Linked DNA regions of Homo sapiens. The protein of the gene in region 4 purifies or fractionates together with the protein of the main gene of each other region. This does not show direct contact. Each region holds a gene or a part of one and is shown on either strand. Other genes may lie near its edges. The genes, in order: CCT7, CWF19L2, SIPA1L1 and WDR83.

The links.
Region 1: the proteins of WDR83 (region 4) and CCT7 purify together in Homo sapiens (affinity purification with mass spectrometry; 4 studies listed by BioGRID and IntAct, with this or other methods). This does not show direct contact.
Region 2: the proteins of WDR83 (region 4) and CWF19L2 purify together in Homo sapiens (affinity purification with mass spectrometry; 4 studies listed by BioGRID and IntAct, with this or other methods). This does not show direct contact.
Region 3: the proteins of WDR83 (region 4) and SIPA1L1 purify together in Homo sapiens (affinity purification with mass spectrometry; 4 studies listed by BioGRID and IntAct, with this or other methods). This does not show direct contact.

Annotation. Positions count from the first base shown.
Region 1 is NC_000002.12:73,244,297-73,251,315, reverse strand, and holds part of CCT7 (T-complex protein 1 subunit eta), read right to left. Parts: intron 6,773-7,019; coding exon 6,601-6,772; intron 3,555-6,600; coding exon 3,390-3,554; intron 2,326-3,389; coding exon 2,137-2,325; intron 1,498-2,136; coding exon 1,400-1,497; intron 1,011-1,399; coding exon 878-1,010; intron 91-877; coding exon 1-90. UniProt on the Homo sapiens protein: Component of the chaperonin-containing T-complex (TRiC), a molecular chaperone complex that assists the folding of actin, tubulin and other proteins upon ATP hydrolysis.
Region 2 is NC_000011.10:107,440,820-107,447,838, reverse strand, and holds part of CWF19L2 (CWF19-like protein 2), read left to right. Parts: intron 1-4,789; coding exon 4,790-4,900; intron 4,901-6,216; coding exon 6,217-6,336; intron 6,337-7,019.
Region 3 is NC_000014.9:71,315,676-71,323,479, forward strand, and holds the start of SIPA1L1 (signal-induced proliferation-associated 1-like protein 1), read left to right. Parts: upstream 1-4,800; 5' UTR 4,801-4,828; exon of another isoform or gene 4,829-5,446; 5' UTR 5,447-5,506; exon of another isoform or gene 5,507-5,856; intron 5,857-5,998; exon of another isoform or gene 5,999-6,173; intron 6,174-7,259; exon of another isoform or gene 7,260-7,804.
Region 4 is NC_000019.10:12,662,036-12,669,820, reverse strand, and holds the start of WDR83 (WD repeat domain-containing protein 83), read right to left. Parts: upstream 3,015-7,785; 5' UTR 2,829-3,014; intron 1,749-2,828; exon of another isoform or gene 1,463-1,748; coding exon of another isoform or gene 1,396-1,462; intron 1,314-1,395; 5' UTR 1,302-1,313; coding exon of another isoform or gene 1,204-1,301; 5' UTR 1,194-1,203; intron 694-1,193; coding exon of another isoform or gene 588-693; intron 468-587; coding exon of another isoform or gene 418-467; exon of another isoform or gene 406-417; intron 69-405; exon of another isoform or gene 67-68; 5' UTR 31-66; coding exon 1-30. Other genes in the region: WDR83OS (PAT complex subunit Asterix), read left to right, coding at 418-467, 588-693, 1,204-1,301, 1,396-1,462; MAN2B1 (lysosomal alpha-mannosidase isoform 3 precursor), read left to right, coding at 3,120-3,278, 4,016-4,118, 4,296-4,469, 4,836-5,029, 5,986-6,118, 6,359-6,504. UniProt on the Homo sapiens protein: Molecular scaffold protein for various multimeric protein complexes. Acts as a module in the assembly of a multicomponent scaffold for the ERK pathway, linking ERK responses to specific agonists.

The DNA.
Region 1 (7,019 bases), on a different chromosome or scaffold from region 4:
CTGTTTTCCTGGAATAGTCCTTGAGTAATCCCGCAGGTACTTGGAGAGTTCCATCTCAATGGCCCCGCCACCAGCCACCACTGAATCATTCTGCAGAGATCAGACCACCTCTCAATGTAAGAGGGCCCCTGGTCCAAGCTTCCATGCTGGGCCACTCAGTAGGTCCCTTCAGCCCAGAAAGAGTGGTTCTTCATTCCTTCCTCCATCCCAAGCCCCAAACGCCCAGACACAGCCCCTATCTAGAACATCCCAACTTCAACCTGGTGAACCTTATGGTTTCTGACTATTTTCAAGGTCACCTGCAGCTCAAGGACACTGGCACAATTACTGGAATATCTGACTACATTAGCTCCAGTTTGCTAACAAAACGAAGTCTTTTTCTTCTGCTTGCTCTGTTGCCCAGGCTGGAGTGCAGTGGTGTGATCATAGCTCACTGTAACCTCCAACTCCTGGGCTCAAGGCATCTTTCCACCTCAGCCTCCCGAGTAGCTGGGACTGACTACAGGCACATGCCACCATTCCTGGCTAATTTTTTTATTTTTGTAGAGACAGGATCTCGCTATGTTGCCCAGGCTGGTGTCAAACTCTTGGTCTTATGCAACCCTCCCATCTCGGCCTTCCAAAGTGCTGGGATTACAGGTGTGAGCTACCACGCCCGGCTAAAAGAACAAGTCTTAGCTTTCAAGGCAGGATGACCTATTTTTGAGAAACTGAGGCTCAGTTTCTCTACCATTTGTGGGGCAAATCAGGGCTCACCACACCACCCAGGAAAGGGCAGGTTATATAGAGAAGGAATCACCACACAAATCCAAGGTCTGATCAGCTAGGGAGATAGGAGAGAGTAGGCTGTGCAAGCAGGAGGATATCAGCCCAGTACCTTGATGGCCCTCCTGACGATCATGATGGCATCATGCAGGGACCGCTCTGTCTCCTCCATAAACTGCTCGGCGCCGCCACGGAGAATGAAGGTGCATGTCTTGGCCTTGGGGCAGCCAGTAAAAAAATTGTACCTATGCCCAGGATTAAACAGTACACACATGAACTCTTGTCTGCCACCATCCTACTGTATTGTCCTCACTGCCAGCCCCCCCAACACTCAGCAGCTGCTCTTACATTCTTCACTCAGGTTACCCAATCCCAACCTTATAGACATTTTCTTGGAAAGGTCTGCAGCTGTACCACTAGGGCATAAAAGATTGTGGAGTCAAGGCTTTTAGATCTTCCTGTAATCCTGTATATTATCTGAGCTCTTTATGGCTCAAAGGTGAGACTCTGTAAAAGCTGTATACCACTTTGTACACAAAGGTGAGACTTTGTAAAAGCTGTATACCACAGCCAAAAGATGGCAGAAGACCAGACCCAGGCAGGTTTGTGAGCTCGGCCTGGGCCCACGGCTCACCTCTCGCCTCCAATCTGGGTCTCTTCAAACACCTGGCATCGACCCAGCACATCTGCTGACAGAGCATTCACACTGGTCTGGATTGAGCCTCCACAGGCCTAGGGAGCAAGGAAGGCAAGATCTAGCAGTGAAGGTTCCCGAGGCCAGGCAGCTTCCTGCCACCTCGTCTCAAAGCCAATTCCCACGCATGCCCCCAGAGCCTCTACATTACCCGCCCTTTCCCTTGACTTCCAGGCGACCCTTCCCCCTCTCTGAAAGAGCAAAAAAAAAACAAAATAGAACTAAAACACATCAAAGGCAAACAGAAGAAGTTAAAAGGAGATAGGGACCCATTCAATTCAGCTTATACTCCCTCCCCTAAACTAGGGTGGCACTGGGTCCAGCAACTGAACTCAGGAGTACTTTAAACCTAAAAGTATCTTTTGTGGGATGCTCATGAAAGGGAAAAAATCTGGCTGGAAGAATCAATATTTGAGTTTGTCCAGCTAATCATAGCATTACTGCTAGGTTCTCTCACAAACCAGATTTCTGGACTTGTTTTGGTTAGACTAAAGTAGTTTGTGCTACTGGGCACACACACATGGAAATGGAATGTGTCCTGGAAAAAAAAGAGTTAAAAAAAAAAAACAGGGCTCAATTCACACGCCAACCTGACAGTACACTCTGTTATACCAGGGGTCAGTGAAAACCCTTCAGGGCCACAAAGGCCGAGAAGCAGCCTGTGAAAATCTGGTTACCATCATTGTCCTCTTCAGATCCTCCTCAGGTACTCGGCCAGCACAGAACATGTCCCTGTCAGCAAAGTACTGGGTGGCCACATCCCCAATGGGGAGTTTGGACAAGACAACTTTGGCTCCAGAATGATGGATCTTCTCTAACTTGTCATAGAGAATGTTCCACTCAGCATCAACAATTGCCTGATAATCCTGGAGAGACCCAGAAAAGGATGAGAATGCTTTGGGGTGAAGGTTGACATATACGGTAGGGTAAAATATACCCATCTGCCCCCACCAAATAAAACATGCTGATTCATCTGGGAATTAACAGAGATAAACAGAATAGCTACTCCTCAGTCCAAGCAAATAAGGACCCCATGAGATGACTTAGGAATCACCTGAAACTCCCCAACACAAAAGCAGAAAGTAACCCCAAGGCTGAGAACCACAGCTGGTGCTGTCCAGATGCGAGAAATAGTTTAAACTGGCTGAGGTCTAGACTCTTCTGAGGTGCTGGATTCATGGAGTTCCCAATAAGACCCCTTTGGCCGGGCACAGTGGCTCATGCCTGTAATCACAGAACTTTGGGAGGCCAAGGCAGGTAGATCACCTGAGGTCAGAAGTTCAAGACCAGCCTGGCCAACATGGTGAAACCCTGTCTCTACTAAAAATACAAAAAAAAATTAGCTGGGCATGGTGGCACATACCTGTAATCCCAGCTACTCAGAAGGCTAAGGCAGGGGAATCACTTGAACCCAGGAGGCAGAGGTTACAGTGAGCCGAGATTGCACCACTGCACTCCAGCCTGGGCAACAGAGCGAGACTCCGTCTTAAAGGAAAAAAAAAAAAGACCCCTTCCCCAAGAACTGCTCAAAGGTGGGTGACATGGCTACCTCCAGAGGTAGCCTGGGTAACATCAACAATGAGAGCACACCTGTCTCTGCAGCACTAGGTCTAGTCTAGAAGTGGAGGAACTCACACTTGCACCAACAAGAGGAACCAAAATACCGGGCAGGCTATGTAGCTAGAGAGTCCCTGCCATCCCCTTCCCCAGGACCACAGCGTATTTCAACAGGTGTTCCCTATCCAAATTTCCTCAGGTCAAGGTCACTCAGGGAGAACACAGAGTATGGAAAGAAGGGGGCCTAGTACTTAGACATCAATATTCAGGGGGGCAGGAAGAGAAAGGGGCCCACAATAGCCATGAAGACCCAGGGCTCTGGCTCAGAAAGCTGCCCATTTCCATGCCCCCACCAACTGGTGAACCCACCTACCTCAACTGTGTGGACTCTTATCTCAGCATTGTCTTTCTCAGCTTTCAACTCGAGCTCGACATTCAAAAGGGCAATCTTGGGATTGTGGTACTTTTTGGGTTGCATTTCAAACCCAGCGTAAGAGAAAGTCTTCTTGAATGCAACACCAGCTACCAGCTGAGAATCCTGTTTTAAAAAAACAAACACTTTAATGGTTTGGTACTAACATGAAATAAAATCAAGCTAGTTGTTTGCTGGCTAGTGCTTATCCATTCCTGTGAGCCTGAGCTAATCATGTCTTTATTTCACTGCTGTAACACAGCCTTTCTGTTATCATAAAATCGAAGACAAATCCTTTTTTTTTTTTTTAAATAACACAACATATTATTTCAGTCACCCCTTAAGCATAAGGAAAATCATCTGGTTAGCAGAGGCAAAGCATGGTAAAGGCCTACTGGGCTGTCCTCTAAGACTGGCCTCTGCAGCACTGGCCGATGGATAATGCTGTACAAACTTCCAAAAAGTATGCCAGAAGAGGAGCCAGGTGTTTACAAAGAAGGCAAAACAAAAGCTGTGCAATGCTACCCTCTTCTATGCCCCAGCTCCCAAATCTCAAGTATCCTCCTGTACACCTCCATGTACCCATAATTTGCACTGCACCCTCCACCCCCACACCCCCAACAGCATGGATACTATAGCCTTGACGCTTCCTCCCTCCAGAAGATGATGCCAAAAGGTCTTAAGAATCAGAAATCCCCTGCATAATTTCTAAGCTATCACTGCAGCTCCTCAGACCTCAATCCCTCAAGGTAGGGATCTTCTACCACTTGTTCTGCAACAGAGCTTCTCTGTGGGTTGGATTTAACAGCAGGGCATAATAGAAAGCACACTGCACCCAGGGCTGACTCAGCACTACCGTGAGACTTAGGTTCCAATCTCAGATCTTTTCCTTACTAAATGACCGAGTCATTTCCCACACCATAAAAAAGGGTATTCAGTTCAATAACCTTTAGTTTCTCTGCCAGTGCTCATCTACAATTCTAATCTATAATACTGTAACCCATGGGTGAAGAGTATCTGTCCCCAGTTCCTGCATCATTCAAATCCACAGCTTCCTAAAGGGAGTGATGCCTGAGCTGAATGACAGATGAGCAGAAATTAGTCAAAGAGAAAAAAGGAAAAAAGGGGTTCTCCTAAGAGGTGGGAGGCAGTGTTGTGGAATCAGAGAATGAAAAGCCATTTGAAGTTGCTAGAATTTAGAGGGTAAGAACCAGCCAGTGAAGAAGAGAGAGGGGAAGTAGGCAGGGGCCAGTTTAGAAGGATCTTACAGGCTTTGTTAATGCCTGGCTTTGTATAGGGAATGTAGATATCAGAAGGCTTTACGCAGAAGAATAAAGTAGGAAACTTCACCCTGCAAATAGTAAATAAGTACAATGGATTTAGGGGATCCAAGACTGGAAGAGGGGTGGCAATAGTACCAGAAAGAGTAAAAGAGACAGACTCAATAAATAATTAGGAAATCACGAGGTAAAATGGAACAATGGTAATTGACAGGCTGGAGTCAGAAGGGTTTTCAAGGATGATCCCAGATTTCTGGTTTGAGTGACTGAATAAACGGTGGTGACACCAACTATGACAAGAAATACAGAAAATGCTATCACAGGAGTGGAGGACAAGATAAAGCGTTTAACAGCAGTTAGACACAAGAAAGAGCATGAGGCTCAGAGGAGAGGTGAGTACTAAAGATATGGATCAGAAAATTCCCAGTTAACCCTGGTAACAAGTAAATAATCACTACCACTATTTATTGAATTCTGGGTCAGGTTTGTATGTATTTAACGAATGTAGGACAGTCTCGGAAAAACGCAAGTGTGGCTTAGAGTCCCTGGCTCTCTTGCCAGGTAAGATTATTAGTCCTGATTTCTAATCTATGTAGATTAGAAATGGATGCCATTTCTAGATTAGAAGTGGATGCCAATCTAATCTCAACCATTTATGGAAGTAGGAAGGCCCAAGAGAAGATGAAAAATCGCTACTAAAGCAGTGAGTAAAGACAAAGTCAGCAAGCCATGATGAAGATAGGGAAATGGCTCAGATGACCTCCAGGTTCCTCACAGCTTTATTACATACAGAGAATCTCAGCCCACTGGTCTGACATGTGCCACAATAGGAGGGGAAATGGCAAAGTGGGAATGCAATTTGGGAGGGTAAAATTTAAAGAGAAGGGCCAGGCTATCTTTCAAGCTGGTCCTCCTCTATCCAAATCGCTTCAGTTGAGGTCACTGACGAAGAGTAATAAGTAAAGCAGGCCAGAGACTGAAAAGGCCAAAAGCAGCATGGAGATACCAAGGACGTTTCCAGACAGATACTACTGTGTTAAAAAGAAGGAGTTGTGCTGTCCAAGACAGTAGCCACTAGCTACATGTTGCCATTTAAATGGAAATAAAATTAAGATTCAGTTCTTCAGTTACATTAGTTGCATTTCAGGTGCTCAGTAGCCAAGTGTGGATGGGGCTATCATATTGGACAGCGCAGATATGTAACAGTCCCACCACCCTACAGAAAGCTCTACTGGAGGGTGCTGAGTTAAGAGCTACACACGCTAATGTGGATCAATTTCTAAAATATGTTGTTAAATGGACAAAAGCAAGCTACAGAACACTATATAAGCAATCTTTTGTCTTTAAAAAACAGTATTTACATACATGTTCATATATGCACAAAGTAATTCTGCAAGGATACACACAAACTAATAGTGGCTGTATATGGGGCAGGGGTAGTGCATGAAACACTTTTAACTTTAGGCCCCTTCACAGTTTGAAATATGTATCATCTATTCAAGATAAATGAATGAAAGAAGGGCAAGCTTAACAGTATCACTTAGGAGTAAGCAGTGAACTGAAAAATCCCTCTCAGATGTATTAATTGGGAGGTCATTGATGATTTGAGCTAGTCCTACTACCCCTCCACCACCCACTGACACAGAGAACCTGAGATTCTGAAAATCATACAGTCCAATTTTCTACTCTGCTGACAAATAATATCCACAGAGGTTACCAAGTTCATCTAGTAACAGCCTCTAATGGCAGTATGGAAAGTACAATGTAAGTCTGACTTCCTGCCTAACATGCATTCTCTTTATTCCTGTAATGAGTACCCCTCTGCCATATGAAGCTGTCTGAAGGGTCAATATGAAAGCAAGAGCTGTCTAGGAAGGCCACAGCAGGCTTACCTCGAGGGCTCCACCCTGTACCTTCTTGATTCCAATCATTTTAAGCTGCAGCAAATCATCGAGCATCATCACTGCATCCACCACCATCTTAGCAAAGAAAGCTTTCTGCTGGGAGATCAGCTTGGAGCTCAGAGCGGTCATGGCACACTTTTCCAGCAGCTTCCTCTGCTCCCTGGGACACAAGGGCAGAATCTGCATCAGGTCTTGAAAACCAAATCCCTCTTATCTGATTCTACTACAGTGTGGAGGTAGTTCCCTTCCAGTCTCTAAACTCAGCCCTCTCCAACTTCACCTTTTGTATCTTTAGGGCAGATTATCAGTGACAGATGGTGACTGCAGTCAAAGATCTCATATGTGGCAGCTTTTAAACTACAGTCGACAGCTTCTTTTGTGCTCTGTGGGCTGGGACACAGCCAAGG
Region 2 (7,019 bases), on a different chromosome or scaffold from region 4:
TGTTCTGTTTCAATTAAATGATTTTTCTCTTGAATATGGGTCACATTTGCTTGCTTCTTTGAATGTCTAGTAACTTTTAATTGGATGCTGAACCCTATGAAACTTATATTGTGACTGCTGGATTTTGTTGACTTCTTCAGAGAGTATTGAGTTTCCTTTTGGCATACAGTTAATTACTTGTGAATTAGCTTAATCCTTTTCAAGGATTGTTTTTAAGTTTTGTTCGTATGCACCTAGAATAGCTTTACTCTAGGACTGGTTTAGCCTTTCTACTAAGGCATGACCTTTGTGGGTTCTCTGCTGATTGTCATGGATGTTCAGCGAGGTTTCTTTATTCTGGTTGGGAGGAACTAGAATGTCTTCCAGCCCTTTGTGAGCTCTGGGGATTGTTCTGCTTACAGCTCTTTGGTAATTGTTTTCTCCATGGTAATTTTTCTTTGCCTGACCTTGTGGACTCTCATCCTCAGCATGTTCAGCTTGGTCTTTCTTTAAAGACTCCAGGGGTCCTTTAAGTAGATTTCTGGCACCCTTTCTCTGTGTAACTTCCCATCTGTACTTTTGTTTCAGCCTTCACAAAGTTCAAATTCCGTTTCCTTTGCTCAGTGAGATTTTCATGTTCTGCTTGGGTTACCCCTCTATGCCACAGTCTAGAAAGTGCCTTTAGATAAAAAGCTGTAGAGATTGTAGTTTCATTTTTATTCCAATTTGTATGTATTTCTAGTTTGATGCCATTTATTTTGTCAAGGACAGAAGCAGAAGTCCTCAAGATCCCTTGAGTTTTGCTGGTAGCACTTTTCTGTCTTAGTTCCACCTTCTAGGTTTTGACCACTAGATAGAATTAGAGGTGTGGTTAATTCTGCAGGCTGCACAAGAGAAGGAGAGCCCTGAAGGCTGTGTTAGGTCAGGAGGCGTATTAAGCTTGATAGTTAATGAGTTCAAGGTAAAATGGAGATTGAAACTAAAATTAGCAAGAGAACTGAAGTCGTAGCATGGGGAGCATCAATTTTGCTGAAGTGGTAAGGTGAGTGAGTGCATAATTGTGAAAATGAGTATAGGTTGCTGCTTAAAAGTTTCTGACTAGTGCTATTGAAAGAGTAGAAAAAGACATTTCATTTAATTTCAGCTTGCATTTATCAAATGCTTATTCTTTGCCAGACACTGTTCTAGACATGGGGAATATAAAAATATATTTTTAAACCTTTGGGGAACTCATTTCCTAATTGGATAAATAGATACATAATATTAATAATATGATTTTGTAGTAGATTTTGTAGAAGAAGATGTTGGCTTTATTTTCTGTTGTTACTGAGTTTAGCATACCATCCAACATGATGCCATGGTAGTACAGGGTATTAAGAGGGATTTCATTTGCTAACTTGTTGATTAAATGATGCTTGAATTGAGACTAGATAGATTAGTAAGCATTAGGCAAATAAAGGTGTGCTTGGCATTTCATGCATAAGGAATTGCGAGAGCAGAGACATGGAAGTATGAGATAATATGAGTGTGAGTATGTGTGTATGTATGTAAATATAACTATAAGCAATTTGATAGTACTAAATTATAAAACAAGAGGAGGGGGTGAATGGAGATGAAACTGTAAGAATTAATAGGGCCTTGTAAACCAAGAGCTTTGACTTTATTCAGTAGGGAATGTATCATCTAATTGGGTTCAGCTGCATTTATTAGAAAATCTCAGAATAGCCATTGATTATACAAGATAGAAATTCATTTTTTTCTGATATGAAATAAGTCAGGTAGACAGTCTAGGGCTAGTATGGTCTTCTGGGACCTAGGCTTCTATTGTCTTGCTTTTCCATCATCCTTACAGCATTGCCTCTTAGTCCAGATAACAGGAAAGAAGATGCTCTTTTTTTTCTTAACTTGACTTCCAGAAAGTCCCATAAAATACTTTTGTTTACATCTAATTGGACACTTGATCATAAGGCTTCACTTTCTAGCATGGGAAGTACATTACTTCTCCAAATAAAATGGGATTCTGTTGGTAGGAAAGAAGAGGGATAACTAGCAGTCTTTGTAATGGGAAGCCCTAGAAGAGAAGTACGGTGGTCAGATGTTCCCTTTATATTACTCTAAATGTATTTGGGGTGAGGGGTTGGAGAAAGAAGGGGAGCAGGAAAGATGAGTCCAGGAGATTAATTAGGTCTCCTGGAATCAGTTGTTTAGGTGAGAGATAAGATCTGATCTAGGGCTACTACTTTTTTTTTTTTTTTAAGGCGGAGTTTTGCTCTTGTCCCCCAGGCTGGAGTGCAATGGCACGATCTTGGCTCACCACAACCCCCGCCTCCCGGGTTCAAGATACTCTCCTTCCTCAGCCTCTCAAGTAGGTGGGAGTACAGGCATGCGCCACCACATCTGGCTAATTTTTGTATTTTTAGTAGAGATGGGGTTTCACCATCTTGGCCAGGCTGGTCTCGAACTCCTGACCTCATGATCCACCCGCCTCGGCCTCCCAAAGTGTTGGGATTACAGGCGTGAGCCACCGCGCCCAGCCTGGGGTGCTACTTTAAGGATCAAAGAAGAGAATATTAGTTGGTATTTTGGTTGCAGGTAACAGAAACTAAATATAAATTGGATTTTGCAAAAAGGATTTATTATTAAAGTACAAAATTCTCATAAGACATATAGATGTAGGAATGCAGCTAGGCTTCAAGAATAGCTGGAATTAGAATTGTGAATGGTTTTTGCAATTTTCTTGCCATTTTTCATTTCCCCTACCCTGAGTTCTAGTTTTTAAAAAATTTTTGCTGATTTCTATTTCTCATGACAGAAATGGCCTCTCCCAATGCCTTCCCATTTCTTAGTTTTAGATAAGCCCATTTAGACCTGATTTCAGATTCCTGTGGAATGGCTCAGGTTGATGTGAATTGGGTCAGGTACCTACGTTTGAACTAATCAGTAGTGGCCAGGGATAGAGGTAGGCTCGTATGGTAATCATGTATTCACTCTATGGTATATTTAATAAATATTTTAAAAATGAAAATGGTAGGCTTGAATATGTGAGGTAACATCATCCTGAGTTTCTGACTTGGTTTAAGTGGGTGGTTGGTTGTTCCAGATAACTCAGTTCAATACTATACAAGGAGAAGTAGATTTTGTAGAAGAAGAGGATAGCTTTATCTTCTGTTCTTACTGAGTTTAGCATGCCATCCAACTGCAGTAGACAATTAGTCAGTGAAACTTTGGTTAGACAAATTTGAAAGATATCAGCACAATTTATTGTAGTTCAGGCGATCAGAATGGATTTAATGGCCCAAAGGGAATGTTTAGACATTGAAAAATGTCATGGGCAAAGAATGGAATCCCAAATAACAAGATATTTAAGGGCTAAGCAAAGGAGGAAGAGTTCATGAAGGAAATGGAGAAGAAACAGAGTGGGAGGAGAGCTGAGAGGTGTCATGGAAGCCAGGAAAGTGAGTTATCAACAGAGTTGCATTAAGCAGAGAGGTCTAGAGAGCTGAAGACTGAAACGTTTTGTTGAGTTCGGCACAGTGGAAGCCACTGGTGAGTTTGGAGAAGTTTCAGTAGATTAATGGGGACAGTAGATGTATTGTAGAGTTTTGAGAAAATGTATGAAAGTGAGAGTGTGAAGGCGGTGCATGTAGACTACTCTTTCAAGAAGTTCATCTGAGAATGGAAGCCGGAAGATTAATTCCTGCTAGAGGAGGAATATACGGGGTCAAGGAAGGTCCCCCTTCCCTCCTTAAAAAAAAAAAAAAAAGGGTGGGAAATGCTTGAAATTGTTTCTAGGCCATTAGGGATCTTTGGTTAATGCCGTGAGAGGAGAAGATAATTGATGGAGCAAGGTCCTGGAGGAACAGAAAGAGTTATCAAAATCTTTAGAGCAAGATCTGCCTTAAATAGGAGGAGTTAACTGGAAATAAGGATAGGCACAGCCATAAATGTTTTGGGCGGTGGGTAGGAGGATAAGGTGGCCCTAGTTTTCTTGATGAGGTAAAAGAAGACATCATTTGCTGAGAATATGGGAATTGGTATAAAGCTTCAGGAGGGTGTTGAAGAAGATAATGTTATCTGCAGTTTTAGATCAAGGGAAATCTCAAAATGTGAAACTTAGGGGCAAACAGCAAATTCGTTTACCTGGGTGGTGTTTCCCCTGTTCTAGTGAAGCAGAGATGTGAGTAACTACTTGACGTTGGTAGTCACTGAAGCTCTGTGCTGAAGTGAGGTCTCTACTTGGCAGTTCCCATTTTTGTTTTTTTGCCTTCTCTTGGCTTGATAATAAATGGATGAGAAAATAAAAATAATTTGGTTGTGTTTGGTGGGCTTAACTCAAACTAGTGGGTTTATATGTTTTTTCTTTAAAAAAATTTTTTTTTTTGAGACGGAGTCTCTGTGGCCCAGGTTGGAGTGCAGTGGTGTGATCTTAGCTCACTGCAACCTCTGCCTCCTGGGTACAAGCGATTCTCCTGCCTTAGCCTCCTGAGCAGCTGGGATTACAGGCATGCGCCACCACGCTTGGCTAACTTTTTTGTATTTTTAGTAGAGATGGTGTTTCACCATGTTTGCCAGGCTGGTCTTGTACTCCTGACCTCAAGTAATATGCCTGCCTCAGCCTCCCAAAGTGCTGAGATTACAGGTGTGAGCCACCACACCCAGCTCTTTAAAATTTCATTGCCATTTTGTAAAGGGGAAATACAGTGTAAGAATTTTTTTCTACGATGTTGAATTTCTACCACTTAACAGCACAGAATTTTTATATCAAAGTATGCAAATTTGACAATTTCACTTATATGCTAAATGTTCTTAGAGCTCTGAAGATGAGTGGGTTGAGGCTGTTCCATCCCAGACTCCTGACAAGGAAAAAGCCTGGAAAGTGAAAGATGAAAAGTCAGGAAAAGATGACACCCAAATTATCAAGGTAAGCAAGCCACTTGATTTTCCTTCCTTGCTTTCTTCCTTCCTTCCTTCCTTCCTCCCTCCCTCCCTCCTTCCCTCTCTATCCCTCCCTCCCTCTCTGTCCCTCTCTCCCTCCCTCCCCCTCCCTCCCTCCCTCCCTCCCTCCCTTCCTTCCTTCCTTCCTTCCTTCCTTCCTTCCTTCCTTCCTTCCTTCCTTCCTTCCTTTCTTTCTTTCTCTTTCTCTCTCTCTCTCTCTTTCTCTCTTTCATTCATTTTAGAGACAGGGTCTCACTCTGTTGCCCAGGCTGGGCCGCAGTGGCACAATCAGAGCTCTCTGCACCCTCGACCTCCCAAGCTCGAGTAATCCTCCCACCTCGACCTCCCTGGTAGCTGGGACCACAGTTGTGTGCCCACCACGCCTGGCTAATTTTTTTATTTTGTGTAGAGTTGGGGTCTCCCTATGTTGCCTAGACTGGGTCTCAAACTCCTGAGCTTGAGCAATCCTTCCACCTCAGCCTCCCAAAGTGCTAGAATTAGAGACGTGAGCCACTGCACCTGGCCTATCACTTGGTTTTAAAGAAAAAAGTATCAACTTTTGAGAATAAATGAATATGAAAATGAAAGATGATTAAAATTTCTTCAGGAGAACAATTAGACTTTGAAAACAATATACTTTAGGAATAATTTTGGCAGTACTGCTGTTTGCTGAATGTTTAGAACCCCCTTCCCCTTCTACTGTGAGAAAGTGAGTGTTCCTCTCTATTCTCGTTCCTTAGAGGCTTTCATGCTTTTGATTGTTGATAAGAAGTGGCACTTTCCCCTTATGTCCCTAAAGCCTTATACTGTATCTCTGTCTGACCCTTCTATAGTGAGTGGAGTTCCATCACAGTTTTTTTTCCCTTCACCTCATGCCTTAATTTTCTTAACAATACTTAACAGTTGAATAGTTCAAAAATTTTGGGCTATAGTTCATCTGCCTCAGGAAGAATGTAATTTGTCCACTGTTAGCCACAGGTGAAGGAAGAAAGGTGAACAGGAACTAAGTTTGATTGCTTGTTGTGTGCCAGGCTTTGGGCTGGATGCTTTAGATCTGTTATCTTGTTTACTCTTTAAAACAATCCTGAAAGGTAGGGATTTTATACCATTTTATAGAGGAGAGACTAAAGTATAGAGAGATTTAGAAGCTTGCTTCAAGTTATATAGCCATGTAGGACTTGTTTCAGGTTTGATTGCCTCCAAAGTCCCTGCTCTTATTACCAAGTGTTTATTAAATTCTAATCAGTTCAGATTGAAATGATGAGTGGATGACTGTTGATTTTATGTCTTTTTTTTTAACAGAGGGATGAGTGGATGACTGTTGATTTTATGTCTGTTAAAACTGTGTCATCATCATCACTCAAAGCTGAAAAGGAAACTATGAGGAAAATAGAGCAAGAGAAAAACCAAGCGCTTGAACAGGTAAGAGAATATTTGAAATGCTTTAACTTTCTAATTTACCTTTAATAAACTTACAAGACATTTATATAAATGCAGTTTAACTTGTAAAATACCATTTTATTTTTTATAGTATTTAATACAATTAGTGAGAACAACTATGAAATACATCAGTTTAAGAAAAATAAATTTCCTATAGGAAGTGAGTTTAAAGGTTTACTAGATTTATAAATCTAGGGCATATATAAAGTTGAGTGAATATTGAGTTTAATATCATTAAATTGAAAGTGAACTCACTCAATTTTTGTTTCAGTGTACATACTGAATTAGACACCATGAAAATACTTCCATTTCAAGACATCTAGAAATTCTGGTGGATATAATGTAAAATAAGCATGCTTATTTTATACTTTATTGTTGTCACTTTGCTAGTAAGGAAGCAATAGGAAATCTGTAGAGACCAAAAAATGAGGCAAAAGCATGAATCCAGAGAAGTAAGGAAGTGCTGAAGCTGATGACTTTCCTAGGGGCATCACACAATCCTGGTAATCTGGAATTCCAATTTATACTGTACCAGGAGCATATGTTTCTTTTCCAGTACTCAGTATCTGTAATTGTCAAACTTTATATATTTTTTTATCAGCCTAATAAATGGGTGAGAAATGGTATTTCATTGTTTTTGTTCGCATTTATCTGATTGCTACCAG
Region 3 (7,804 bases), on a different chromosome or scaffold from region 4:
GTAGCTGCGACTACAGGCACGCGCCACCATGCCTAGCTAATTTTTGTATTTTTAGTAAAGATGGGGTTTCACCATGTTGGCCAGGATGGACTCGATCTCTTGACCTCATGATCCACCTACCTCAGCCTCCCAGAGGGAACCGGTTTTGAGAGGGATATCTGGAGTTCAGGAGGGCACTGGTTTTTGGGGGAATATTTGGAGCTCATCAGTTTTAAACATGTGAAATTTGAAATACCTAGTACATAATCAATTGCAGATGTTGAGTAGCAGATGGATGTACAAATCTGGAGATGGGGGAGATGACTAGCCTGGAGGTGTAAGTTTGGGAGTATTTAATGTATAGATGGTATTTAAAACTATCAGACTGGTGAGCTCACCACAGAGTGAAAAGAGACCATAAAGAGATGTCCAAAGTCTGAGTCCTGGAGCCTCCTATGTTGAGAGGTTCAAGACTAAAAAGACCAGAAAGGTAGGATAAGAACTAGGATAGACTCTTGGCTCAGAAGCCAAGGGAAGAAAACATTTCAAGAACCAGCATGGTTGACCTCTTCCCTGCTGCTGAGGGCTCCAGCCAGGTGAGCTTGGAAGTTGAGCACCAGATTTAGCAATAAGGCAGTCACTGATGCCCCTGAGAAGACCTGTTGCTGTGGAGTAGTGGGGGTGAAAGGCTGCTCAGAGTGGATTCATGGGAAGGGAAGGATAGGAATTGAAGACACCAAGCATGGAAGAGCCTTTTGAAGATTCCAGTTATAAAGTGAAGCAGGGGGAGACATAAAATTTAGGAAGCATTTTAGTTTTTACCACGGCAGATATTCCAGTATGCTTGTAAGCCCTTAGAAGTGAAGCAGTAGAGAAGGAAAATTTGCTGATTCAAGAGAGAGTGGGGACAGTTGCTGAATCAATGTCCCTGAGTTAGAGGTGATGGCACTAATGCACAGACCGAGGCTAATCTTGGCTAAGAGCACCAAGAGTTCATAAATGACAGGAAGGACAGAGGAGTATATGCAGACAGATGCAGGCAGGTTGGTAGACAAGAGTGATAGAGAGGGTATGTGTGTTCAGTTCTCTTCTGATTATTTCTATTTTACCAACAAAAGAGGGAGCAAGGCCATTAGCTAGAAGTACTAGGCAGAGGTTTGATTAAGGAGGAGAAGATGTGAAACAGTCCTTTAAAGAGGAGGGAAGAGCACAGGGAAGTATAGTAGTTTTGCTGTTAATTGATTAACAGAACGTTATAATTATTTATAACAACGTTATAAAGTAGTTGGTGTTTTAAACTTGTAATGAATACTACTATGTAAATGAGAGAAGGGGCATTTGCTAAGGAATCCAGTATTCATGTAAACAGAGTTACATCAATAAGGCTAAAATAATAACACCCTAAAATTAAAACAACATGGGATATCATTTAATCCTGAATAATTTTGAGGGCACTTTGGACCTTTGTAATGATTTAGAGTAATCTTTCTAAATATCACTTAGAATAATGCCCTGCAGATGTACAGCTACTGGAGTTCTGAATAGGCCAGTTAAATCAGATTTTAAATGTAAAACATGCAAATGTGAGTCAGTGTTTATAATATTAAAAAATACATAAAATTTGTATGGTAGGCCTCTGTGTCAAAATTCATTCTATATTTGGTATACACTATACATTAGGGTGTTTTGTTGAGTAGAGGTAAATAACCAGAGGGAAATGAATTCACCTGGGTTTTAACGAAATAAGAAGCAAATAGGGAGGGAACAACATAGCAAATGACTAGATGTTCTTATCACTAGAAAGGTTACATATCCTTTGTGTTGGAGGGCAAAGGCAAGGGGTTGAGCAGAGATGGGTAGAGGAGCCAAGACAGTGGACAGGAAGTGGACTGAGATCTAGTCTGTGCTCTTGGCAAACTCTCCATTCCGCATTTCCCTCTTCTGCTGCCTGACATCTGCTATTTTGAAACCTAGGAAGGTCAGGAAGATACAGCAGGAGTGACTGACCTAGAGAATGTGCAGTTGGAAACTAGGCTTTGGTAGCTTTCACTTTTTATCTCCTTTAGAAACACGGATGAAAGTTCTGCCATCAGTGAGGGATAAATAGTAGCCCAGGGCCTTGAAAAAGCAGTTTTAGATCCCTGGGACAATTTCTACTATTTTACTATGTCTGAAGATTAGGGAGGTTATTTTTGTAATTTGAGGCCAACACCCATCTCTTGAGCCTTATATGAAGCACTGAAGAATGTTAATAGATTTGGCTAGCATTTGGGTCAATTATTTCAAATGGCTATCTGGGAGTCATAAAACAGATGGTCCTGAAATTGTACTGCGTTGGTGGATGTAGATTGGCAGCCATCTTTTAAGGGCAAAATTATGTTAAAAGCTAAGCCAGAACAAATGAGCAACAACTGATTTATAATATTTTGCAATGTTATGAAAAATGGTTCCTTAAAACAGATTCACAGGACTGATGGTGATGTTCCATTGTGTTTCTTTGTGAAAATGTGATATTAAACACACCAGTAAATGAATCTGAGGCCCTCCGTCCTTCCCCTCCTCCCTCCCTCCCTTCCTTCCTTCCACAGATCTAGTCTTCGCTCCTTCCTTCCTTCCTTCCTTCCTTCCTTCCTTCCTTCCTTCCTTCCTTTCCTTCCTCCCTCCCTCCCTCTTTCCTTATAGTTATTTTGGGAGTATGGATGTATTTAGTTTGGGTCTTTGGTTTTAATTAGAGTATTTATTAAATAACAAGGAATCTGCTTTGAGTTAGTGTAAAAGCAAATCATGAACTATAGATTACCTTTGAAATTACTGTAACATGGTCAATATTTTTGTTGTTTTTGTAGTTGGGACAAGATAAATTTTAAAATAAAATTGTCAACATTTAAAGAAAATTGTCAACATATAGCTACTCTTTGTGAAACTGACCTACTATAAGATGAAACTTTTTTTATCATTTGCTGTAAAAGGAAGATTTGTTATTTATTGGAAAATTTTATAGGTCTAAGAGCTCTTATATTAAATTATATATATATATATATATATATATATACTCACACATACATATGTGTATATATATTTAGATGCAGGATCTCACTGTGTTGCTCAGGCTGGAGTGCAGTGGTGTGATCAGAGGTCACTGCAGCCTTTAACTCCTGGGCTCAAGTGATTCTCAAGCCTCGGCCTCCTGAATAGCTGGGACTACAGGTGCATGTCAGTATACCTAGCTAATATTTTTTATTTTTGTAGATACAGGGTCTCTCTATGTTGCCCAGGATAGTCTCAAACTCCTGGCTTCAAGCAGTCTTCCCACCTGGGCCTCCCAAAGTGCTGGGATTATGCATGTGAGCCACCATGCCGGCCAGCTATAGAATTTTAAAGCTGTAATAACCTAACATGTGGGGTACCCCCCACAGATGAAGAATCAGAGAGATTAAATAACTTCTCAAGGAGACTCAATTATTAGTGGCACAGAAAAACGTAAACCCTAGTTTGCTGACTTTGTCTAGTATCACTTAGGTTTCTAATACACAAACTTTCATTGACAGGATTTAAACTTGCAAGTGACTTACAAGTTTTGACTGCCTAGTCCTCATATGCTTAGGTTATGCTTTAGGTTTCTAGTTCTGTGGGACTGAGTTAAATAATGGTTTCCCCATGTTCATGGATAGGAATTTTAAAAATTGAGATATAATCCACATACAATGGTATCTATTTTTACTCATTCATTTTGAAATCTAAAGTTTAACTTCTATTCATAATATCCATTTTACTTAGGCAGTGAGTATATAATAACCCTCACCTCAGAAAAGTTTCTACAGTTAAAAGACACGGGCTGAGGAGAGTTCATCTTCATCCTTACTAGCATTTTGGAGTACGTATAAAGGCGTCTGCGGATGCCTAATGATTAAAAAAAAAGTTCCCCTCACCATGGTGAATAGGGTTTTTACGAGAAAAATATGGAGAAAGCAGAGATTATTACCATTGAAAAAGACAAGGTGTTAACAGAAATGGGAGGGTAGCTTGATAGAGTCCAAACTTGACTGAACTCTCTAGGTTAGGGCCAAAGGCAAGTACTGAGGACAGGCATGGACTGTTGCGTTCAACTTGTCAAAAAAGTGGCCAATATGTAGTATGGACCAAGCCTATAGAGGCGCTGAGAATACAGAGATGAATGAGCCAGTTCCTGAAGGAGCCCAGTCTGCGTGTGTTTGCGAGTTGAGAAGAGGAGGAGGGAGGCAGCATGGGGAGTGTGGGGATGGAGGAATTAGATTGAAAGAGAAGGCCGAAAAACTGAATATATAGTAGAAATTTGGGGTGCAGATATGTGCTGCCTAGAAAGGCAGAAACCTGTCCCAGAACCTCTTAATACATTAGTCTCATTTGCCAAATTTGGCCAGATATCATGACTGTGGTCCTCTCGAGATGCCCTCTTGAATCGGCTTAAAAATTATCCTTCCGCAACCACCCCTAGCTTTCCCCACCGCCAGTGCGCCGGGCAGGTTGAAAACTGCACCCACGTTTGCAGCCTCTGCTCTCCGCAGGAGACAGGAATCCAGGGCTTTGCCGTCGTCATAGCAACCAGAAGTTCCGCGGTCCCCTACCCTCCCGCGACTTTTTCCACTTCCTCCGCCTGCAGGGCCCAGCCGCCGCTTCTCTCGCGAGACTTGTGCGCCGCGCTAAGCCGCTCCGTGGTGATCTCACCCGAGACTTGGGGGAGAGGGAGGAGTGAAGGAGGGGAAGGAATGGGGCGGGAGGCGGGGCGGGGAGGGGAAGGGCGAGTGAGGCGCCGCCACTGCCGGCAACTTTGTGAGCGAGTTCAGTGCGTGCGTGAGCGAGTGAGCGAAAAGTCAGTGCAGCGCCGAGTCCCCGGCTGGAGGGTCCCCGGGGAGGGCCAGGTCTGGGCCCCAGAGGCCGCCCCCGCAGCCACTCCATTCCCTCCCGCCTCTGTGGCTCCCTCCCCATTTCCTCCCCCACCGGTCGTTGGGGCCTTCCCGCCCCCGTCCGCACTTACCTGTCCCCTCCCCCATGCGGTACGCACCTCCTCATCCCCCCCCCGGCAACCTCGCGCCCACCTTGGACCTTCGGAGCCCGGACCCCCGCACTTGCTTCCCGTACTGGCCGCCCCCTCAGTTCTTTCTGCTGGCGGGCGGGATGGGGGCGCTGAGCCTCGGGGACGGCGCGAGCGGGGGCCCGGGCGCCTAGACAATAGTTGATGCCCAAGGACGGGGCCACCTCCGCCTTCCCCTCCTCCGGGAGCTCGGCCCCCGCCGGCCCCCCGCCAGCCTGTATTCCGGGTCCCCCTCGGAGCCAGCCTCGGGAATTGGGCTGATTCCACCCCCGCCTCCCTCGGGCCCCCCTCCGCTCCGCGCTCGGCGCCCGCCTCGGGCCGGCCTCGCCGCTCTCCGCAGAGGAGGCGGCGAGTGAGCGCGCGCCGGCCGTCTACACGGTTTCTCTTTCTCCCCAGGGAGAGCGCGCGGCGGACGCGCCCGGGACGCGCGGCGGCACCGGGAGGCCGGGCCGAGCGGTAAGTGGTCCCCGCGCCCGGGTCCTGGGGGGAGCGGGGGTGCAGGACGGCTGACAGCCCCCTGCCCTGTTTCTGGCCGGGGTTGGGGTCCAGGGCCCGGAGCAGGACCCCAGGAGGCCGGTTAAAGTTTGATTTTCGATTTGGTGGCTTGCTGGTAGCTTAGCCCGGCGGGGGCGAGTCCGGCTTCACCGCGCCCGGCGCGCGCGCACGCACCCCAGAACCCGAATCTGCACAACTACTGGGCAGGCGTCTCTGCGGGAGGCCAGGAGACCCGCGTCCCGGTCCGGGCGGTTGCGTCCACCCCGCTGAGCTGGTCGCCACCTGGCGACCCTTCCCCTCCAGTCACCTGGGTGAGCGCTTTGCAGCCTGAGCTGGAGTAGGCAGGCCGAGTTGGTTGAGTTGTGGGAAATGGAGACGAACAGCTCGGTGCCCGAGGGTGGTTAATTTCCCCTTTGGGGGTCTTGGGGACATGAAATTTTGGGATGCTCTAACCTGCTTTCCGGGGAGCGAGTAAACCGCGAAAGGGCTGGGAAGGCGTGAGGGTGCCGCAAAAAGAACTTTTCCTCCTTCGCCCCATCTGTTACCAGCTTCTCTCCTGACCTTAAAGGAAATTTCCGAGGCTCTTAAATCGCTCCACGGCATTTCTAGGTGGACCAGTAATCGTGTTGGGCAGGTTGAAATTTCATCGCGGTTTGGAGAACAGAGAGACATGGGAAATGGCTCACTTCCAAGGAAGATGTTTAGCTAAATTGTTGGCATTCGTTTTCTAAGAGAAGCATTTGGGGATTGATGGCTCCTAGACTACGATTACCTTATAGATTTTATTTTTCCTGACGGGTAGTTTAGAGGCAGCATTCGCTGAAATGCATACTACCTGTGAAACGATCATGTTTCTAAACTGGAGCCAGCGATGTGATGCAAATTTCAGAATAAAGGTGTCGACTTTCATCAGGTTCCAGGTCTATCTGGATGGACTGGGATTGGCGTTTCCTCTATAAAGCAAACCTTTCATGTTGAAACTCTGAGTCAGACTCTTAAAGCCATTGTCTTTATGCTGGTACTCTGTGGGAGTTAAGTGTCAACTTTCTCCTGTTTTCTCCTATGGAGTATCCGTCCAAGGCAAAGATTCTCTGACTGAATCTTTTGGAAACGTGCAAGGTTAGATCATACTGAATTCTGCAGCCAGTTTAGTAATAATATTAGTTTTCTATATAATCCTGATTTAACGACTGTCATTTTTCTCTTCGTTTTTTGAAAGCTGCAATTAAGCTACCTTTACCAGGATTTAAAAAAGAGGATAATATGGAACAGTGGTAATAACAGTAGGTCTCAGCTAATTTATTATGGCCACCGATGTGTCCAACTATTAGATGACATCCCAGTTATTAACTACAATATTAATATTAAAACATTTTTCCCATGGAATCAATTATGCTAAAGCATTAACAATTAACAGTGCATTTAAAATGATGAGTGATTGTTTCCACATAAATGGTTAGAGGCAAAATAAGAGATTTGGGGGATGAATGGCTTTATGTCTCTGACAACTAATTTTCTTATTAATGCTTAAGTAAAGGACTCTTGAAGTTGACTGTCATTTGATTTTTCTAGTTGACTGAGTGAACAAGTTTGGTGAGTGGCTTGAGACAGTCAGTAGGTGTTGCTGTTGTTAGCTTCTCTGCAGTTCCTGCTTCTGCTCCTCGAGTTTGAAATTGCAATTCTGGTACAGTGAACTTTTAAAATCTGAAGTATCAGTCAGTGATAGTTGTGATTTCATTGGAGGAGTCTATGGCAAGGTTGACTTCAACTCCAGGTAATAATTGCAAAGCACCTCTCTGATACTTTGTACTGAGATTCATTTAACTCTTCTTTTGTCTCTGTCCTTACACTAGTATTTTCAGGCTTCTGCATTTGCTTTGCTTTTGCTTTGAAGTATGTGTGTAATTTTGGTATAGTGCCCCCATCTTCATTGTTTAGGAACTTTTAAAAAACACTTTCTAGTGAGTTTATTGAAGTCATAGATTGAAGATTGCTTGAGATTAGCAGTTTTGTAGACTTCGGGGGGATCTTGGTTGAGTTGTGATGTATATATGTTCTATCTTAAGTTGCAATCTGAATTTTTAGATAAATGACTGTTTTTCTTTTTTTAAAAATCTGTTTGAGCTGTGAAATGGGAGCATGAGGAGAGCTGAAATGGTATGAGAGTGGAATTTGATGGAAAGTTTGTCATGATTAATAATGTGACTATGTGCCTCTTATCAGTCCTTACCGTTGTATTATCATTGTTATTGGTCCGTA
Region 4 (7,785 bases):
AGGCCGCGGCTTTGGCTCAGGGAAAGCCATGCTCCCAGGACTCCTTCCTTGCAGCCTTAAATCGGTCTGTACGGAAAATTCCGCGCCTTAGAAACCCACGCTTGGGTGTAACCTTATTATTGTTCTTCCTGACCTACTTCCTGTTTATCACTTCCGGGTTCATCATTTTGGCATTTCGGTGATCGGGTTGGAACTATTGAAGCCCGCTTTCAGGTTCTTTTCCCCATTTTCCCTTTGAAAGGAAGACTTCTGGCTTCTCCTAAATCTCCGTTCTCTGGGTAAGGGGAGTCCAAGCCTCTGTCATGAGGAACGGAAATGCGAGGGCCTCGGGTGTTACTCTAAAATCCGCCCTCAGCTTGCACGCCGGAAGCTGCGATTCCTGCAGCGGAAGAGGCGTGATCTGGCCTTCGACTCGCTATGTCCACTAACAATATGTCGGACCCACGGAGGCCGAACAAAGTGCTGAGGTGAGGACCCCAGCGTCGTGGGCACGGGTTCGGGTTGTGGGTGTGGATCGGGGCCCTGGGAAGCGCCTGTCTATCCCGGGGGCAGGACCTGAGCGCCCCTGACCCTCGAGCCTGTCGCAGGTACAAGCCCCCGCCGAGCGAATGTAACCCGGCCTTGGACGACCCGACGCCGGACTACATGAACCTGCTGGGCATGATCTTCAGCATGTGCGGCCTCATGCTTAAGGTGGGCGGGGTTGAGCTTCTATGGGTGTAGTTGGACCTGAGAACGAGGCCCGGGGGCGGGTTTGGAATGAAGCGGGGTGTCTTGTCATTGCTGATGGGGCGGGACCTGAGATCGGCCGGGAGTGGGGCTGCGATGACGCTGGGCCGAGAAAGCCCCAGTCTTTGGTGAAGTCAAGGATTCGAGTCAGGTTGGGGATGTGGCAGATTGGTCTGCGAGTGGGGCCAGGCTTTGAAGCAACTTGGAGAGGAGTTGTGGAAAAAGGGCAGGGTCTTAAGCATGTGGGATGTCAGAGTCTCTCTTGGTCCTGAGAGACGCAGGCCAGACAGTAGGACTAGAAACCACGTATCTAGAGTATGCCATGAGCAGGTGGGACTGAGGAATTCCGGGTGGGGCAAGGTCCCAGCTGCATCAGATGGAATCAGTGGGCATGATCTGGTGTCTGGAAAGGTGGCTTCGGGGACTCATTGTTGTGCCTTTCACTAACCTGCCCACCCACTTACCTTTCCCTAGCTGAAGTGGTGTGCTTGGGTCGCTGTCTACTGCTCCTTCATCAGCTTTGCCAACTCTCGGAGCTCGGAGGACACGAAGCAAATGATGAGTAGCTTCATGTGAGACTTGCCCTACAGAACAAGTGACTCTTGAGTAAGGGGTGGGGGGACCCCAGCCTGGCCATCCTAGACTGACACCTCTCTCCTGTCTCAGGCTGTCCATCTCTGCCGTGGTGATGTCCTATCTGCAGAATCCTCAGCCCATGACGCCCCCATGGTGATACCAGCCTAGAAGGGTCACATTTTGGACCCTGTCTATCCACTAGGCCTGGGCTTTGGCTGCTAAACCTGCTGCCTTCAGCTGCCATCCTGGACTTCCCTGAATGAGGCCGTCTCGGTGCCCCCAGCTGGATAGAGGGAACCTGGCCCTTTCCTAGGGAACACCCTAGGCTTACCCCTCCTGCCTCCCTTCCCCTGCCTGCTGCTGGGGGAGATGCTGTCCATGTTTCTAGGGGTATTCATTTGCTTTCTCGTTGAAACCTGTTGTTAATAAAGTTTTTCACTCTGGCTGTCAGCCTCTTCTGTTCAGTGGGGTGTTCCTCCTACCTGGCGGGAAGGGCTCTAGCCCCATAGGCCTGGTGTGGGGCCCCAGTCTGGAGGCTTCTGGCTGTTCATTTGCTTACTTCATAAACCTTGTGTCTTAAGTCAGGTGCTAGGGACAAGACAGTGACTTCTGCCCTCTGGCAACTCACCAGATGGCCCTGCTGACCTAGATAATCTAGGCTTTGGTTTCCTTTTTTTTTTTTCCTTTTTAAGAAAGAAAATGGTCTTGATCTGTCATGCAGGCTGAGTGCAGTGGCACAATCTATGTTCACTGCAGCCTCAAACTCCTGGGCTCAAGCAATCCTCCCACCTCAGCCTGCCACGTAACTGGGACCACAAATGCGTGCTACCATGCCCAGTTAATTCTTGTTTTTTTTGAGACAGAGTTTTGCTCTTGTTGCCCAGGCTGGAGGGCAATGGCATGATCTTGATCTCGGCTCACTGCAACCTCCGCCTCCCAGGTTCAAGTGATTCTCCTGCCTCAGTCTCCCAAGTAGCTGGGATTACAGGCATGTGCCACCATGCCCAGCTAATTTTTGTATTTTTACATTTTGTGTAAAATTACAAATTTTGTGTTTTCAAACCCGTCTCTACAAAACAACCCATGTTGCCCAGGCTGGTCTCAAACTCCCAGGCCCAAGTGATTCACCAGCCTGGCCCTCCCAAAGTGCTGGGATTGCAGGCTTGAGCCACTGCGCCTGCCCTGGGCTTTGTTTTCTTATCAGAGAATGAACTGGTAGGAATTGGGAAAGGCATGAAAGACTCGGGGTCCTTCCCCACTTGTCAGACCCTCTTTTCTCTCCGGAACACCCAGGGATCCTTCTCAACCAGGCTGGATCCCATCCCTGGTACTCCAGGGGTATTTACCCAACGTCCCAATCCCCACAGTATAGGACTCTTCATCAGATCCTCCTCTTAGGCAAGCTAGGTCCTTCCAGGACCCTAGCGCTGAAGGTCCATGGGACGGACACCCTGGATTCCCATGGACACACTACACCGGCTAGGAAAACCCGGCCCCCTTAGGAAAAGCACTTCTGCTCCTACCGGCATTAAGAGGCATTCCGTCTTGGAATTCCGGCATTAAGAGGCATTCCGTCTTCATAGCCCGTGAGACGCCAGTGTCACCTTTAGCCCAACCAGTGCCCTGAGGGTGGCATTTTCCTACCTTCCTGTAACGACCCCCGGGATTGCCCAGGGCTACAGCCTCTCTCCCGTGAGCCTCCAGACCGCGCCCTGGCCCCGCCCCCCACCCCGATTGGCCCGGCCGGGTCTGGGGGCGGGGCGTTTGCCCGGCCTTTCCAGGGCCGGGGAACCCCAGGAGGAAGCTGCTGAGCCATGGGCGCCTACGCGCGGGCTTCGGGGGTCTGCGCTCGCGGCTGCCTGGACTCAGCAGGCCCCTGGACCATGTCCCGCGCCCTGCGGCCACCGCTCCCGCCTCTCTGCTTTTTCCTTTTGTTGCTGGCGGCTGCCGGTGCTCGGGCCGGGGGATACGAGGTGAGTGGGGCCTCCGAGCTGAAACGTACAGGAGGCAGAGTGAAACCCAGAATACAGTCTAGAGGTGTGGGTGGGTCTGTCCTGTGGGTGTCTAGTGAATGGCTGATGATATGACAGTGTGGTCTGAGTGCGTGCTTTGTGTCATTGCGAGGTCTGGCTGTGCGCATCTGAGTATAGGACTGTGTCTGATTGTACCTGCCTCCGTGTCTCCGGGATGCTTGCCTAGACTTTGTCTGCACTTAACTGTGGGATTGGAGGGGCAGGAGGTGGCAGGGGGTGAGCAGTGTATGTGTGGGGGGAGGTGCTGGCTGAGAGCTGGGACTCTGGAGTCTGCCTGAAATTCCAGCCTAGCTCTTACACTTCCTGAGTGTGTGACGTTGGGCAAGTCACCTATCCTCTCTAAGCCTCAGTGCCTTCATCTGGAAACTGGGGATAACATCACCCCACCTCCCACGGTGGCCGTCTGCTGTCGGCAAATGCTGAACAAACATCAGCTACTTCTATTATTATTTTCCCGGAGTGTGAATGAGAGCTGCCCTGTGGGGTTGTGCAAAGTGGAGTTGTATCTATGAGCACAACTATGTATGTGTGTGTCCTGCCTGGGAGGGCCTGGCCTCCTCTGCACATAGGCGAGATCAGGCCTCTCTGAGTCACTCACCTCTAGATCAAGACTTACTCTGCAGCCCCCGACCTCGGGGGTTATTGACAAGGTATGTGTGTTTGGGGTCCCTGTGCAGACATGCCCCACAGTGCAGCCGAACATGCTGAACGTGCACCTGCTGCCTCACACACATGATGACGTGGGCTGGCTCAAAACCGTGGACCAGTACTTTTATGGAAGTGAGTAGAGGATGGGGACTGGTCCCTGGGATCCCCATGGTCCCTGTAATCCCTCTGGGTCCTGGACATTAGGGTGGGGCCAGTGCTACCCTAATATCCAGGGTTTGGGCTCCTCTGTCTAGGAATAACCCCCTTGGCTCTGCTGTTCCCTGAGAGCCTTATCCCTGTTATCCACAGTCAAGAATGACATCCAGCACGCCGGTGTGCAGTACATCCTGGACTCGGTCATCTCTGCCTTGCTGGCAGATCCCACCCGTCGCTTCATTTACGTGGAGATTGCCTTCTTCTCCCGTTGGTGGCACCAGCAGACAAATGCCACACAGGAAGTCGTGCGAGACCTTGTGCGCCAGGGTGAGCCTACCCCAAGGAAGTGAAAAGAGGAAGCCCAGCCCAGCTTCTGCTTCTGCATCTCTGGTTTCTGAGATTTGTCATGCCACGTGCAAGCTGTATAACATGCGTGTCGCTCCGCCTGCCTGGACTCTCCATTTGGAGACCTCCTATACATCCCACAAAGCCCCACCTGCTGTGCATCCTCTGGGAAGCCTGCCATGCAGGGGGCCTCTTTCCCATATCTGGGAACTATGGCCTGGGAGCGACCCCTCTTGTCCTTCCGCCAGAAATGTGTACACAGGCAGGCTTTCACATTCCCAGTATCACCCACCCTACTCCCACTCCTGGCTCTGACCGCTGACCCTGACCTTGCCTGTCCTGGCACAGGGCGCCTGGAGTTCGCCAATGGTGGCTGGGTGATGAACGATGAGGCAGCCACCCACTACGGTGCCATCGTGGACCAGATGACACTTGGGCTGCGCTTTCTGGAGGACACATTTGGCAATGATGGGCGACCCCGTGTGGCCTGGCACATTGACCCCTTCGGCCACTCTCGGGAGCAGGCCTCGCTGTTTGCGCAGGTGCGACCCGGGACCTCTCTTGGGCCCACTTCTTCACTCACTCTGGCTCCTCCCTCGCCCAGTCAAACCCCGCCCTCTCCCTGCAATCTCACAAGGACCAGGCCCAGGCCTAGGCCTGTTGAAGCCCTGCCCCTTGAGTGAGCCGTAAAGCCAGTGGCTTTTGAGCTCTGGCCTCAGCCGGCTATGCCCAGCCCAGGCTGACCCAGCTCCGGCTGGCTCCGCCCTCTCCCCTAATAGGCCCCTCTTGGTGTTCTGGCCCCACCCACTAGCTCGGGTCCTGGCTCCTCCCTAAACCGGGTGGCAAGTGGATGCCTAGGCTGCCTTAAAAACAGGTTCATTACCTGTGCTCAGACCCCATCCATCCTCAGGCTGTGGAAGGGGGAACCTCATTCCTGGAGTCAGGCCTGCTCTGCGCTTTGACAGTGCTGGGGAGGTGAACCTGGGTTCTGATGTTGGACCCGCCCTCTCCCTGCTAGCCCAAGGTGGTGAGTTCTGAAACTTCCCCAAGCTTGGAAATAAGCTGGAGGCCTCTCTGTTTCAGCCCTACGTGTTTTTGTTTTTGTTTTTTGAGACAGGGTCTTGCTGTCATCCAGGCTGGAGTGCAGTGGTGCAATCCTAACTCACTATAGCCTCAATCTCCCGGATTCAAGCGATTCTCCTGTCTCAGCCCCCCTAGTAGATGAGACTACAAGAGCGCACCACTACGCCTGGCTAATTTTTAAATTTTTTGTAGACAGTCTGCCCGTGTTGTGCAGGCTGGTCTCAAAAACTCCTGGGTTTAAGTGATCCTCCTGTTTTGGCCTCCCAGAAGGCTGGGATCATAGGCAAGAGCCACCACATCGACCTAGCACTGCTTTTTAACCTGTGCTCTGACCTGCCCCTCCCAAGCAGAGGGGAGTTTGGTGGTGAGAGGGCTGGGCACTAATTCACACTGCCTTTTCCTCCCTCATCCCCAGATGGGCTTCGACGGCTTCTTCTTTGGGCGCCTTGATTATCAAGATAAGTGGGTACGGATGCAGAAGCTGGAGATGGAGCAGGTGTGGCGGGCCAGCACCAGCCTGAAGCCCCCGACCGCGGACCTCTTCACTGGTAGGGGGCTTGGTGAGGGCAGGGCCAGCCATGGTGCCACACACTCAGAAGGGCCCTGGGCTTGATATCTGCTCTGTTGTCACTGTCCTGGAATTCCTATAGTCTGGGAACAAAGGCCCTGCATTTCCTTTTGCATTGGGACACAAATTCTGAAGCCCATCCTGGGTGGGACATGGCCGGCTTTGAAACCAGGGAAGGTCTGGGTGATGGGCCACCCCTTGAACTTGGTGTGACCTGCAGGTGTGCTTCCCAATGGTTACAACCCGCCAAGGAATCTGTGCTGGGATGTGCTGTGTGTCGATCAGCCGCTGGTGGAGGACCCTCGCAGCCCCGAGTACAACGCCAAGGAGCTGGTCGATTACTTCCTAAATGTGGCCACTGCCCAGGTAACCCTGGTGTCCAGAACCTTCGAGTCCGGTATATACAATACAATGAGCTCTTTCCATGGTACAGGCATCCCCTAACACGTTCTCCTTATTTTTAATTTTTTTGAGACAGTCTTACTCTGTCACCCAGGCTGGAGTGCAGTGGTGCGATCTCGGCTCACTGCAACCTCTGCCTCCTGGGTTCAAACAAGCACATCCAGCTAATTTTTGTATTTTTGCACTGGGGTCTCATCATGTTGTCCAGGCTGGTCTCAAACTCCTGAGCTCAAGTGATCTGCTTGCCTCGGCCTCCCAAAGTGCCGGGATTACAGGCATGAGCCACCGCACCTGGCCTCTATTTTTAACATTTTTATTTATTTATTATTATTTTTTTTTTTTTGAGACAGAGTCTTGCTCTGTCACCCAGGCTGGAGTGCAGTGGCATGATCTCAGCTCACTGCAACCTCCGCCTCCCGGGTTCAAGCGATTCTCCTGCCTCAGCCTCCTAAGAAGCTGGGATTAGAGGCACCTGCCACCACACCCAGCTAATTTTTGTATTTTTAGTAGACAGGGTTTCGTCATGTTGACCAGGCTGGTCTTGACCTCAGGTGATCTGCCCGCCTCAACCTCCCAAAGTGCTGGGATTACAGGTGTGGGCCACTGTGCCTAGTCTATTTTTAACATTTTTATTGAGAATTCCTTTTTTATTTTTTTTAGACTCACTCTGTCGCCCAGGCTGGAGTGCAGTGGCACGATCTCGGCTCACTGCAACCTCCACCTACTGGGTCCAAGCGATTCTTCTGCCTCAGCCTCCCGAGTAGCTGGGATTACAGGTGCCCACCACCATGCTCGGCTAAGTTTTATGTCTTTTTAGTAGAAAGGGGGTTTCACCATATTGGCCAGGCTGGTCTCGAACTCCTAACCTTTTGACCCACAGCCTTGGCCTCTCAAAGTGCTGGGATTACAGGCGTGAGCCACCGCGTCCAGCCTTTAACATTTTTATAATTAAAAAACATTATTTTTTCACAGAGATAAGGTCTCACCATGTGGCCCAGGCTGGTCTCAAACTCCTGAACTCAAGTGATCCTCCTGCCTTGGCCTCCCAAAGTGCTAGGATATAGGTGTGAGCCACCATGCCTGGCATAACACGTTCTCCTTAAAAAAATTTTTTTTTCCTTTCTTTAAAAATTGATGGCTGGGCATGGTGGCTCACGCCTATAATCCCAGCATTTTGAGAGGCCGAGATGGGCAGATCATCTGAAGTCAGGAGTTCAAGACCAGCATAGCCAAAATGACGAAACC